2 separate regions of the Homo sapiens genome follow, and region 1 is linked to region 2. Evidence: fine-mapped expression QTL. A gene starts in region 2. The other region holds a variant in brackets. All regions are shown on one strand. Distances are between the middles of the regions. Region 1 overlaps GMDS (GDP-mannose 4,6-dehydratase). Region 2 holds the start of GMDS (GDP-mannose 4,6-dehydratase).

The links.
Region 1: its variant is fine-mapped to the expression of GMDS in whole blood (TOPMed, PIP above 0.99).

What each region holds. Positions count from the first base shown.
Region 1 is chr6:1,714,431-1,719,807 of GRCh38, reverse strand. The region is part of intron 9 of GMDS (GDP-mannose 4,6-dehydratase); the gene reads left to right. Among named protein-coding and RNA genes, the nearest start is that of FOXC1, 110 kb to the right of the region's middle. The variant T/C (reference allele first, on the strand shown) is at 2,255.
Region 2 is chr6:2,243,153-2,248,529 of GRCh38, reverse strand. GMDS (GDP-mannose 4,6-dehydratase) reads left to right here and starts at 2,925. Exons shown (of 11, transcript NM_001500.4): 1 at 2,925-3,209. The coding sequence starts at 3,108. It overlaps GMDS-DT (GMDS divergent transcript), which reads right to left and starts at 2,777. Exons shown (of 7, transcript NR_046229.1): 1 at 2,600-2,777. RefSeq lists a silencer at 2,653-3,282 and an enhancer at 2,783-3,283.

The DNA of each region.
Region 1 (5,377 bases), 530 kb after region 2:
ACAATTAGTTGTTGAGCTCAACTTCTACCTAAAGTAGCTCTGAAGTACATCACCTAAAGAATAGAATTACTTATGAGAGATCCATTCGTCCCTGGTGTGATTACCTGTTCCATCTTTATTTTCATCTTTGGCCGATGACCTCTGTATTCGGAAATCTAAAAAATCCCTCTCTCTTTTTTTTTTTTAAACAAATCAGCAGTGCTCTTCCTGTTCCACCAAGCCTTATTTATCTTCCAAAATAACAGCAATCCAAAAATCTGTGTTCATGGAGATTTCACAGATAATACTGCCTGTGGTTTCTCTCACCCCGTTCTGCCTCATGCTCTCGATAAAGTTAATTATTTTTTATCAAATTTGATTGTTTTCCCAGCACCTTCTTTACTTGAAAACAGTTGCTCTGCAGACACTAGAATATTCTGGGGCTGAAATGTAGTCATGCCCATCTACCGTGGGCTCTGCGCCACCTTTCTCACCCTGCATGCCTTCTCCCACCACCTCACTGCCCACACCTGTGGCTCATGCCAGGCCGGCTTCTCTATCCACTGTTACATCTAGTAGCAAAGGCAAAAACTCGTCTGGCTCCTTTTGTCATTAACTGCCAAGGTGATAGGTCCACCACTGACGGGCTTCCGTCCCAACTTAGTAGCTCTGATCTGCCTCCTAGACAAATGCTTACCAGGTTTGGCCCATCAGTAAATACCTGGTTTCATTCCGCTGTTACTCAGCAATAGGAACTGTCCTTAATAGCAAAATCTACCTTGTACATTTTGTAATGCTGTCATCAATTTGCTAGTTTCCTGAGTAAATCAGGTATGCCTTGCCCCCATGAAAACCTGGTGTAACAATATCCAAACTAAAAAATAAGTGACTGTGTGTAGGTACTAAAAGATTCTGCAGGTTTTAGGATTTATTACAGGAATATTTTAGATAGTACATTGACCATGCACATTTAAAATATAATTCTGATTTACCTTCAGCTTCTCAGATATATATCAGTATATATGAGAAAATATATATATATGAAATATATATATATGTATATATATGAAAATACATGGTTGAGTTTTTAACATTCAATTTTGAAAAGAATGTTTATTGAACATTCCATTACCGTAGAGGTAAGTCCCAGTCTAACACCAAGAAATTTAAAGATAGATGAGATAAGGTCCTTGTCCAATAGAAACTCTCAGATGAAAGGGAAGCAGCTGCGAAGCTGCCGGGACAGCCCGGGGTGGGGTGGGTGTAATGAGGGACTCACGGAACCAGGGCAGCCCAGGCGAGAGAAACAGTGACAGGTGCCAGAACATGGCAGAGATGGAGACCATGGAATCAGAGTGGACTAAGGACATGTGGAAGAGAAGACAGAGCTGAGGTTGACTCCCAGGACAGAGGCTGAACCATGTAGGGTAGTGGGGAGGTGACGATGCTGGAACCCAGATCAGAGATCCAGCGAGAAGACTTACTTTGCAGGGGGAGGTGTTGAGGTGTTCCGTCACACTCCCGGTGCCTTCGGGATATCTGTGCTGCAAAATGAGGGAGGCAGTTGGAGCTGGAGGCCTAGTGTAGAGAAAAGAGGTCAGGGCTAGGGCCTAGATGTGCAAGATGTGCAAGAGCTGAAATCCTGACATACATAAACTCCCTGAAGGAGCATTTCTAGGGGGGAAAAAGAGTGTGCACAGGGAGCTGGTCGCAGAGCCAGGCAAATTCGAATTCCAGGAGGTAAGTCTCAGAAACATATTTTGAAAAAGTAGGTTAATAATTCACAGCATACACAAACTAAGCACTTGTATCTGAGAGCCATAGGGCCAGATTAATGTGTAAAGAGCTAATATCAAAGAGTTACATTAATTGGCAGATGATTACTTCATCTCAATCCAAGAAAAACTGAGTTTCAGGGGGCAAGCAGAGACCCAATTTCAAATCACTATGTCCTGGAAGTCAGGTTGCAAAGCATTTTCAAATTCTTAAAGATGAAAGGGCTTTTATAAGTGTAAGGTACTTTGTGCTGCATATTGTCATTTTATTAGTCATCATTATTAATTATCATTATCATATACTCTTGTGAAATTATTAGTTATCAAAAGACATCTTCTGAAAGGATGCTTTGGGCTCTTCAACTCCTGACATTTTTTATTTAAATATTTATTTTGTTTTATACCTATAGATCTTCATGCAGAAAAAGTTACTTGTTCCTTAGTACTGCCAGCTGTGTGCTTCTTGACCCAGGGGTAGAAAGGATGATCGTGGTGGAAGG[T/C]AGGGATATGCTGAATTGGTGATCGACTTCTGATTCTGCCTAAACGGTATGTTTCAAGGGAGTGTGACAGGCGCTGAGATCCAGCAAGCTCTACAGCTCCTCCTAGAACTGCAGTATCCCCAGTAGGCTAGAGAGCAGCCACCAAGGAAGACATCAGGCTATCATCTGCTTTTATCTGCCAACCACCCCCCATGCTCCTCCCTTGGAAACCTGTCTGCAAAAACCCATCTTTGTACTTGCTCCCTAGAGCCAGCTGAGTGTCACTTTGATAGTCTAAAATCTATGTTGGTTTACTATTGCTGATGTAACAAGTAATCACAAACTTAGTGGCTTAAAACTACCCAGATTCATTGTCTTACAGTTCTGGAGGTCAGAAGACCAAATGGAGTCCCACTGAGCTAAATCAAGGTGCTGGCAAAGCCACCTTCCTTGTTGAGGCTCCAGAGTTCTTGGACAGTGAGATTTTCTCTTGGCAGGGAATACTGAGTTAATCACTTGGAACCGGTGCTGGGCTAGTGTTTTCCATGGAATGGATAGCATGTTGTTAATCACTTTGCGGACTAAACCAAAATGGAAGACGCTGGTGCATCATCTATTTAAAATTGCATAATGTACACACTCAGAAAACACCGCTGATACATTTGGGCAACTGGAAATGAGGACAGGTCGTACTTGAGCCTGAGGGACAAGGACAGGCTTCCTAATAAAGGGGAGTTTTAGAGCAGGGCTTTGGAAAGATTTGTAATTAAAAGAGAGAGTTGGGGGACGGGGTGTAAGAACTGGGAAAGAATTCACAATTGGGGCAGGAGGTGCTGTGGGAATGAACCAGCCGCATGAACAGAGACATAGGCAGGGACTCTGTCAGGTGGAGTGGGTGGGTGGCCCAGTCTGGGAACCCTGAGAAGCAAGGCTGGTAGAGCCAATATCACCACACCCTGCCCTGGCCAGGCCTTCTCTCACGCAGCCAGCAGGCCACCCCTCTTCACCGCCTCACCTCCAAGCCTGTCTGTGCAGCAGCTTAGCCACTCCTCTTATTTGTACCTCCTATTTTCTTGCCTTTTTCTTTCTTGCTGTCACGAGTCTTAAAACCAGTCATATGTCATCATTAAACTCCACATGGCCACTATTCTGATACCATTAATCTGTCTTTTGATACCTGCCATCTGACCCCTGATGGGTTCAAATTCTGGAAGAGTGTCTCCTCACCTGTTCCATTAAGTTAGTTAAACAAGTTTTGTGTTTGAGACAAATTCTTAAACAGTTCCCAGCTGTTTCAGTGATTAAAAGGCAGAGCCAGGAATAGGGAAGGCCTTACTTTCATGAGAGAGATTTGTTTATAGCATAAACGTGGATCCTTAACAGTAACTCAGAGAAAACCAATCTAAAGATGTTTTTAATCTTTTTTTACATATTCTTCGACTTCATAATGAAATGTTTCCCTATTTTCCAGGGATTTTGTTGAGAATGAAATTAATTCTGTGTGAATGTTTTTCACAGTGGTATTAGAAAGACACTGTATATTTTAAATTCAGGCTGTTTCTATTATTTTTTGAAAAGAGGTCAGTGGAGAAAAATGTGCCTAACATCGTCATCTAAAACCTGCTGTTTGAATTTTGGGGAATTTGTCATTTTTTCTAAGGCAAGTTACTAAGGTATTGAAGTTAATAAGACGTATTTGTTTCTGAATCAGTTTTTGTTGTGGAGGATTAGAAAGTACTATAGTCCCTTATTGAAATTCTAAAATTTAAAAAGTATAGTGGTAGTTTGAATATGTCCTACTAGCTTGCATTATAAGTTTTAAAGTATGTATCTCAACACCTTTTATTCCCAGCTCTCAAACTTTTGAAGTCTTCTAGAAGCTCCTAACCTCTCCTTACTTCTGTTTTTCCTGCTACAACATAACGATGAGTATTTTCCCACTGATCTCAATAGGCATGTTGAAAAAACTGATGCAATATTAGTTACAAGACCCTGCACAAGTGTCAGCTCCTTGGTGCAGCCTGCACCTGTTCCCCCAGGCAGTCAGCACTTACCGCTTATCCCATTGCATTGTGATGGGTCATTTCCACCTGGGGTCCTGGGGGAAGAATGACATCGGAGGGCCTTGAAGACGACCTGGCACATTGTCAGGGGATAAAGAATGAATGAATGTGCACATTGCCAAAGAATCATTCTTATGCTTTACAGCCAGCTCTGATAGAACCAAAATTATTCAAACCAGTGTATTAAACTATTAGAGAGCAATAGTCTAAACTATACTAAATAGCAAAGGGAATAAAAATAATAATGTTCCTCTTTCTATTTGAGATTCCATGGCAAGATGAGTGTTAAGTTCACTCACAACTTACACTTGTATATCCAACCTTTGAAAAGGTCATATTTCGTTTCTATTGCTTTACCTCTATACATGTCTTTTCACTAATTCTTTCATTTCTGCCACTTTCCTGTCTCCTTATGTTTCTGCTGATGTTCTCTCCTTTTTTCTTCATCTGTTCTGAAACTCTTATTTTCATAGGTTCTGTTCGTTTCTCCACTTCCCTCTGCACCTTTCTTGTTGATCTATCCCAACTGTCTCACACAAGCTCAGCACTCCAGATGTGCTCCCTGGCTCCTCTCCACAGGAAGACCTGGTGATGCCATATTACAGCCACTGCAGCCCGGCTCCACCCTTAGACCACTAGGGCATGATGCCTCCGGCATCCACAGCATATGCACATTGTGGGAAAATCTCATAGTATCTTGAAGTCTTGGCAGACAGCATCAACAATAATGCATATGCAAAAGGCATCCAAGGTTGCTTCTGTCTGAAGAGAGTACGACTGCCAACTGGAGGCATTGCCGGCTCTGAGCCTCCATAAGAAATGCCCCATTGTCAGCCACCATCTTTCCTTTACCCACTCTGAGGCTATATTTGTGGAACAAAGTGTCACCTAGCATAAAAGACACTCAGTTCTCTGGCTTTCCCCATGACACGCGTTTCTCTGCTACTCTGAAACTTTCTGAATTACAAAGTGAGAAATAAGTTCTACTCAGTGAATGGCCATCATGGCTGGTATTGGTATCGTGGAACCAAGGTCTTCCGGAAACCTGGTGGCATGATATTCCTTTTTCTCTTCACCTAGA
Region 2 (5,377 bases):
TATCATATCCCTTTCAGATTATAGCCCCTTGAAGATTATTTCTCCTCTACTGCTATACCCTCAGCAGCTAGTATGTTTCTGGAGATTAGCCAAGTTTGTGAGTAAAGGTATCAGCATCAACAATTAGCTACCAAATGTATTTGCTTCTTCTGACATACCATGAAGTCACTGTATAGTATAGCCAGTGTCTGTCAGTTCAACCACCCGCTTGTTAACATCTTTCACTGGCCTCCTGGAGAAGGGTTACTCAGCCTCAGCACTATTGACATTTTGGGCTAGAAAAATCTTTGTTGTGGGAGCTTCCTGTGCACTGCAGATGGTGAGCAAAATACTTAACCTCTACTCATTAGATACCTATAGCACAACTCCATTTGTGACAATCAAAAATGCCTCCAGACATTGTCAAATGTCCCCTGGGGGCAAAATCACCCAGGGATGAGAACTGTGTTAGAGGAAAACACAACTGAGCCATCACCCTTAGAGCTTTCCACTACCGCTGGTCGCTTTACTTCTAGTTAATGTAATCTTCTTATGCTGCCCCAGACCCTGTGCTGACGTTGTTCAAGTTGCCCTAATGCTACTGGGAAAATGACAACAACCTCCACTACCAACCTCCTCCCTCCGAGCCCACAAACAGTTAAAAAAAAGAACCTCTTTTTCCCTCTAGCTGTCAATCATGGGTTGAATTTTGTCCCTCCCCCAATTAATATATTGATGTCTTAACTCTTAGTAGCTCAAAATGTGACTGTATTTGGAAATAAGGTCATTAAAGAGGGTCCTAATCAAATGTAACTGGTGTTCTTATAAGAACAGGAAGTTTGGACACAGACACACATACAGAGAGAACGCCATGTGAACATGAAGACAGCCAGCTACAAGAAAAGGAGAGAGGCCTCAGAAGAAATCAGCCCTTGATCCTAAACTTCCAGTCTCCAGAACTGTGAGGAAATAAATTTCTATCGTTTGTCACCCTATGGATGGTACGTTGCTGTAGCAGACCTACCACCTGTCTTCAGAAAAGTTCTCTAGAGAAATAGCCTTTATTCTTCAAGCTTCCTCTGACCTACCATTTCCCATCATTTTATAAATATTTTCAGGCCCTAATAATGTTGATTTTTTTTCCATTTTTCTTCTACTGTCACACACTTCTAGGGCAGGTGTTTGGTGGTGTGACAGGAAATTGACTGGTGTCAACTTCCAGTGTTTGTGTGATAGGAGGTCTCAAAACTACAGGATAAATGTGTCATATCTCCCATAAGTATCAGTTTTGCTCAGTGATTTTTTTTTTTTTTTTTTGAGATGGAGTTTTGCTCTTCTTGCCCAGGCTGGAACGCAATGGCAAGATCTCGGCTCACTGCAACCTCCTCCTCCCGGGTTCAAGCGATTCTTCTGCCTCAGCCTCCAGAGTAGCTGGGATTACAGGTGCCCACCACCACGCCTGGCTAATTTTTTGTATTTTTAGTAGAGACGGGTTTTCACCGTGTTGGCCAGGCTGGTCTTGAACTCCTGACCTCAGGTGATCCACCTGCCGCAGCTTCCCAAAGTGCTGGGATTACAGGCGTGAGCCACTGCGCCCGGCTTGCTCAGTGATTTTTTTAAGGAAAATGTTAAATAATTGGCTCATGCATTAATTTAAAGCGTATTTACATGAAAATGAGTATAGTTTTAGCATATTCCCGTATATTTCACAGACATTTCTAGCTTATAGCATGTTCCTCTCAATGGAAGTGTTCCCTCTCCTCAGCTTCAGGGTCTCTTCATCACTCAGAGGCACCATCAGATGTTTGTTGAGCCATTCTCCTCATAGAACGCAGAGGAGAGGCCAGGTGTGAAACCAGACCAGTCTATCTATAGCTAAGAAATATTCCTAACGGACCTCGAGGAGCGCGAGAGGGAGGTTTTAAATGTAATCCTGAGCTTTTCTGATTTTGGGGTTCCAGGTCTGCTATACATACTCTTGCACGTTATATTGGGCACAGCCCTAGTAACTCTGTGATTTGAAATGATGATCTGAAGTTATCGATTAGGGAGAGGAATGTGGACAGAGAAGCAGAGCAACGGAGACCGGGAAGTTTCCGTCTGTGTCCTGGATTGCAGCCAACTGCTTAGGCACACACACCTGCTGCCCTCCCGGCTCTGAGTCACCTCCTCTCCTCTCCCTGTCCAACGAGCAGCTGCCAAATGGCAGCCAAATCCAACAGATGTAAGCCGGGACCCCACCTGTGTTTGAATTACTTTCTTTGAAATCTGCCACGTCCAGGTTTATTGACCCGGGCAGTCTTTTCAACATTTCCTTATGCCGCATACGGGTGGGGCTAGGGACTTTCTTGTGCACTGGCAGTCCTCAGAAGAGAAAACTTTGAATTCAGCTATTTGGAACCTCGTTACTGGTTCCGAGCCTCAGGAAAGGCCAGAAGAGCGAGAGCCAGCCTAGTTAGTCACTCCCACATCTGTGACCCCCGTTTACGGGCCTTGTACGCTACTGCCCTTCAGGTACCATAAACCGGGCTTCTCAAAGGGCACTGCAACAGGTTTCCAGGAATTATTTATCAAAGTCCATGACCCCGGCCCTGTGACCCCTGGGTTTGAAAATTCAGACCTTCAGCCTAACGGAGAGGTCGGCTCAGCGTTCCTCCCAGCATCCTCGGGCGATATTAGGGTCCTGGGAGATTCGGGAGGCCACTGCGTCCAGGCCCCCCACGGCCAGCCAGGCGAGAGGCGGGACGCGAAGCCGCGGCCTCCTTCCTCTTCCCTGAGGCGGTGGCGGCGGCAGGCCCCGCCCCTCCCGCGCGGTGGCCGTCGGCGGAGGGGCGGGGCCTGCTACAGCGTCGCCGGCTGACGCGAATGACGCTGCGCCAGTCAGGCCGCAGCCCCGCTGCTTGGCCCGTCGGGCCCGCCTTGGCCGGCTCGGCCCGCCCCCGGCCCTCCCTGCACGGCCTCCCGTGCGCCCCTGTCAGACTGTGGCGGCCGGTCGCGCGGTGCGCTCTCCCTCCCTGCCCGCAGCCTGGAGAGGCGCTTCGTGCTGCACACCCCCGCGTTCCTGCCGGCACCGCGCCTGCCCTCTGCCGCGCTCCGCCCTGCCGCCGACCGCACGCCCGCCGCGGGACATGGCACACGCACCGGCACGCTGCCCCAGCGCCCGGGGCTCCGGGGACGGCGAGATGGGCAAGCCCAGGAACGTGGCGCTCATCACCGGTATCACAGGCCAGGTGAGTGCGGGGGCGGGGGCGCGCCGGCCGAGGCAGCCTGGGCACGCGTGCTCTCCCTACGCGCCGCTACTCGTGGGCTGCGGTCTCTCCAGGAACAGCCCTCTCGGCGTCCCGGAAGGGGTCTGCTGCCGGGAGGTGGGACGGAAGGTACGGTGCAGTTAGTGTGTTGCGTGTGGGGTGTGCGGGATACATCGAGCGCCTCTGGTCTTTCTCTGGGGGCTGTGAGCGTGTGTGCCGCGCGGGATGTCGCGCTCACACCCGGGCAGGACCGCCCGCTCTCACCTGCCCCTCAGGTGACCGCAGCGTCTCTTCCTCCAAGCCCATGTCGTGCTTCGCAGCTCCTAGTGCCGGAAAGGGAAAAGAACCGGTGATCAATGAACTTGCGGGTGAGGTCTTCTTGATGTGTCTCGGCTCAAGGGGCGCTTACCTGCTAACGTTTGGGAAGCAAGAAAAAGGGTGCTTTGCTGGTTTCGTCCCCTATCACCGGATTTCCAGATAGAAAAGAGAACATGAAAGAAAGTAATGCTGTGGAGTCACCTACTAGGACATGTTTAGGAAAAAGAACTTAAAAAACTTTTTAAAATCACGCCAACTTCTGAGATTCAGGTTGACACATTTGGAAGTGTATCCGAGGCACACTGGTCCAAAAGTGCGGCTAGTTCCATTTTCAAAGGAATAAGTTCGTCGAGTAAGGTAATCAAGAGGAGGTCTTCGGAATGTCTCAGGCTAAGCATGGCTGGTTTGTGAGGGTCGCCTCTTAGAGGTGTTGCAGTAGGTGGGATCCGACCGCTGTGTCTTACCAAGCTGTGCTGTTTTAGATTCAGTGGTCATGAAGTAATCGTGCCCACATATTGCTGTAGAAAGAATGTGATGTGTGTGCTCCTGGGTATCTCTGGGTGGTGGCCAATATAACACTGAGATAAAGGTGATAATGGCTAATACATATTGTGTCTATCATGTTCCAGTCGCTTGCCTAACATTAACTCATTTAGTTCTCATAACAAACTCTTTGAGGAGGTACTTTTATTATCTCTATATATGTGGAAACTGAGGCATGGGAGTTTGATTTGCCTGAGGTTAAACCGCTGGGAAGTGTCCAGTTGGTATTGAAACCACTCTCAAAGTTCTCTAGTGTTAGAAAGGGCTAAGTGGGCAGGAGGCAGCGGCTCATACTTGAAATCTCAGCACTTCGGTGTGCAGAGGTGGAAGGATTGCTCGAGGTGAGGCCAGGAGTTTGAGACCAGCCTGGGCAACATATTGAGACGTTGTCTCTACAAAAAAATTTAAAAAATGAGGCAGGCATGTTGGTGCTCACCTGTAGTGCTAGCTACTCAGGAGGCTGAGGCAGGAGGATCACTTGAGTCCGGGAGTCTGAGGCTGCTGCAGTGAGCAATGATGGTACCACTGTACTCCAGCCTGGGGCAAGAGAGTGAGATCCTGCCTCAAAAAAAAAAAAAAAAAAAAAAAAAAAAAAAAAGAAGGAGAAGTTGAAATTGGCCAGATGCACAGTCACAGAATATTACACAATTTCAAGTATTGAATACCTGATTTACTGCTGGTTATTCATGCATCTTGCTTTGCTTAAGGTAATCATAATAGACAAGAGTTTGAAAACTAGTAAGAGGTGGATCTGAGTTTGAAAACTAGTAAGAGGGCAAGGATCTGAGGTTGAGAAATTGAATCCTTGAATTGAGGCAGTAAGACAGGTCAGGGCCTACATACTGTCCTCCCCCTTCTCTTTGTTTTCTAATGCTGGGACCTTTCTGCAGATGATTCCCTTTTTTCCATTTTGTCAGACTGGACCTGAAGCTCAAATGTTTACCAAGTTTACCTAATCTCTGGAAAGTAGAGATTTTATTTTAGTATTGTCCGGAAATTAGTTAAGATTAACATCTTAACTAATGTGCTGTGTTGGTGTGGCCTATACCAATTTACACGACCAGCAGTATGAATCAGTGCAGATTAGAAATGGAACCTAATTTTGACTTTTAAGAGCAGTCATTTGGCTGGAACTGAGTGGCCAGGAAGGTATGGAAGTGGGCCCCCACTCTAGTTTGTCCTGCAGCCTGTCATGGGAGTCTACCTGAAGCACCACACTCAGCAGACCACTCCCTGACTGGAATTTTTTGGTTCCTCATTTCATTTCCAACTTAAAACACCTGCATGGC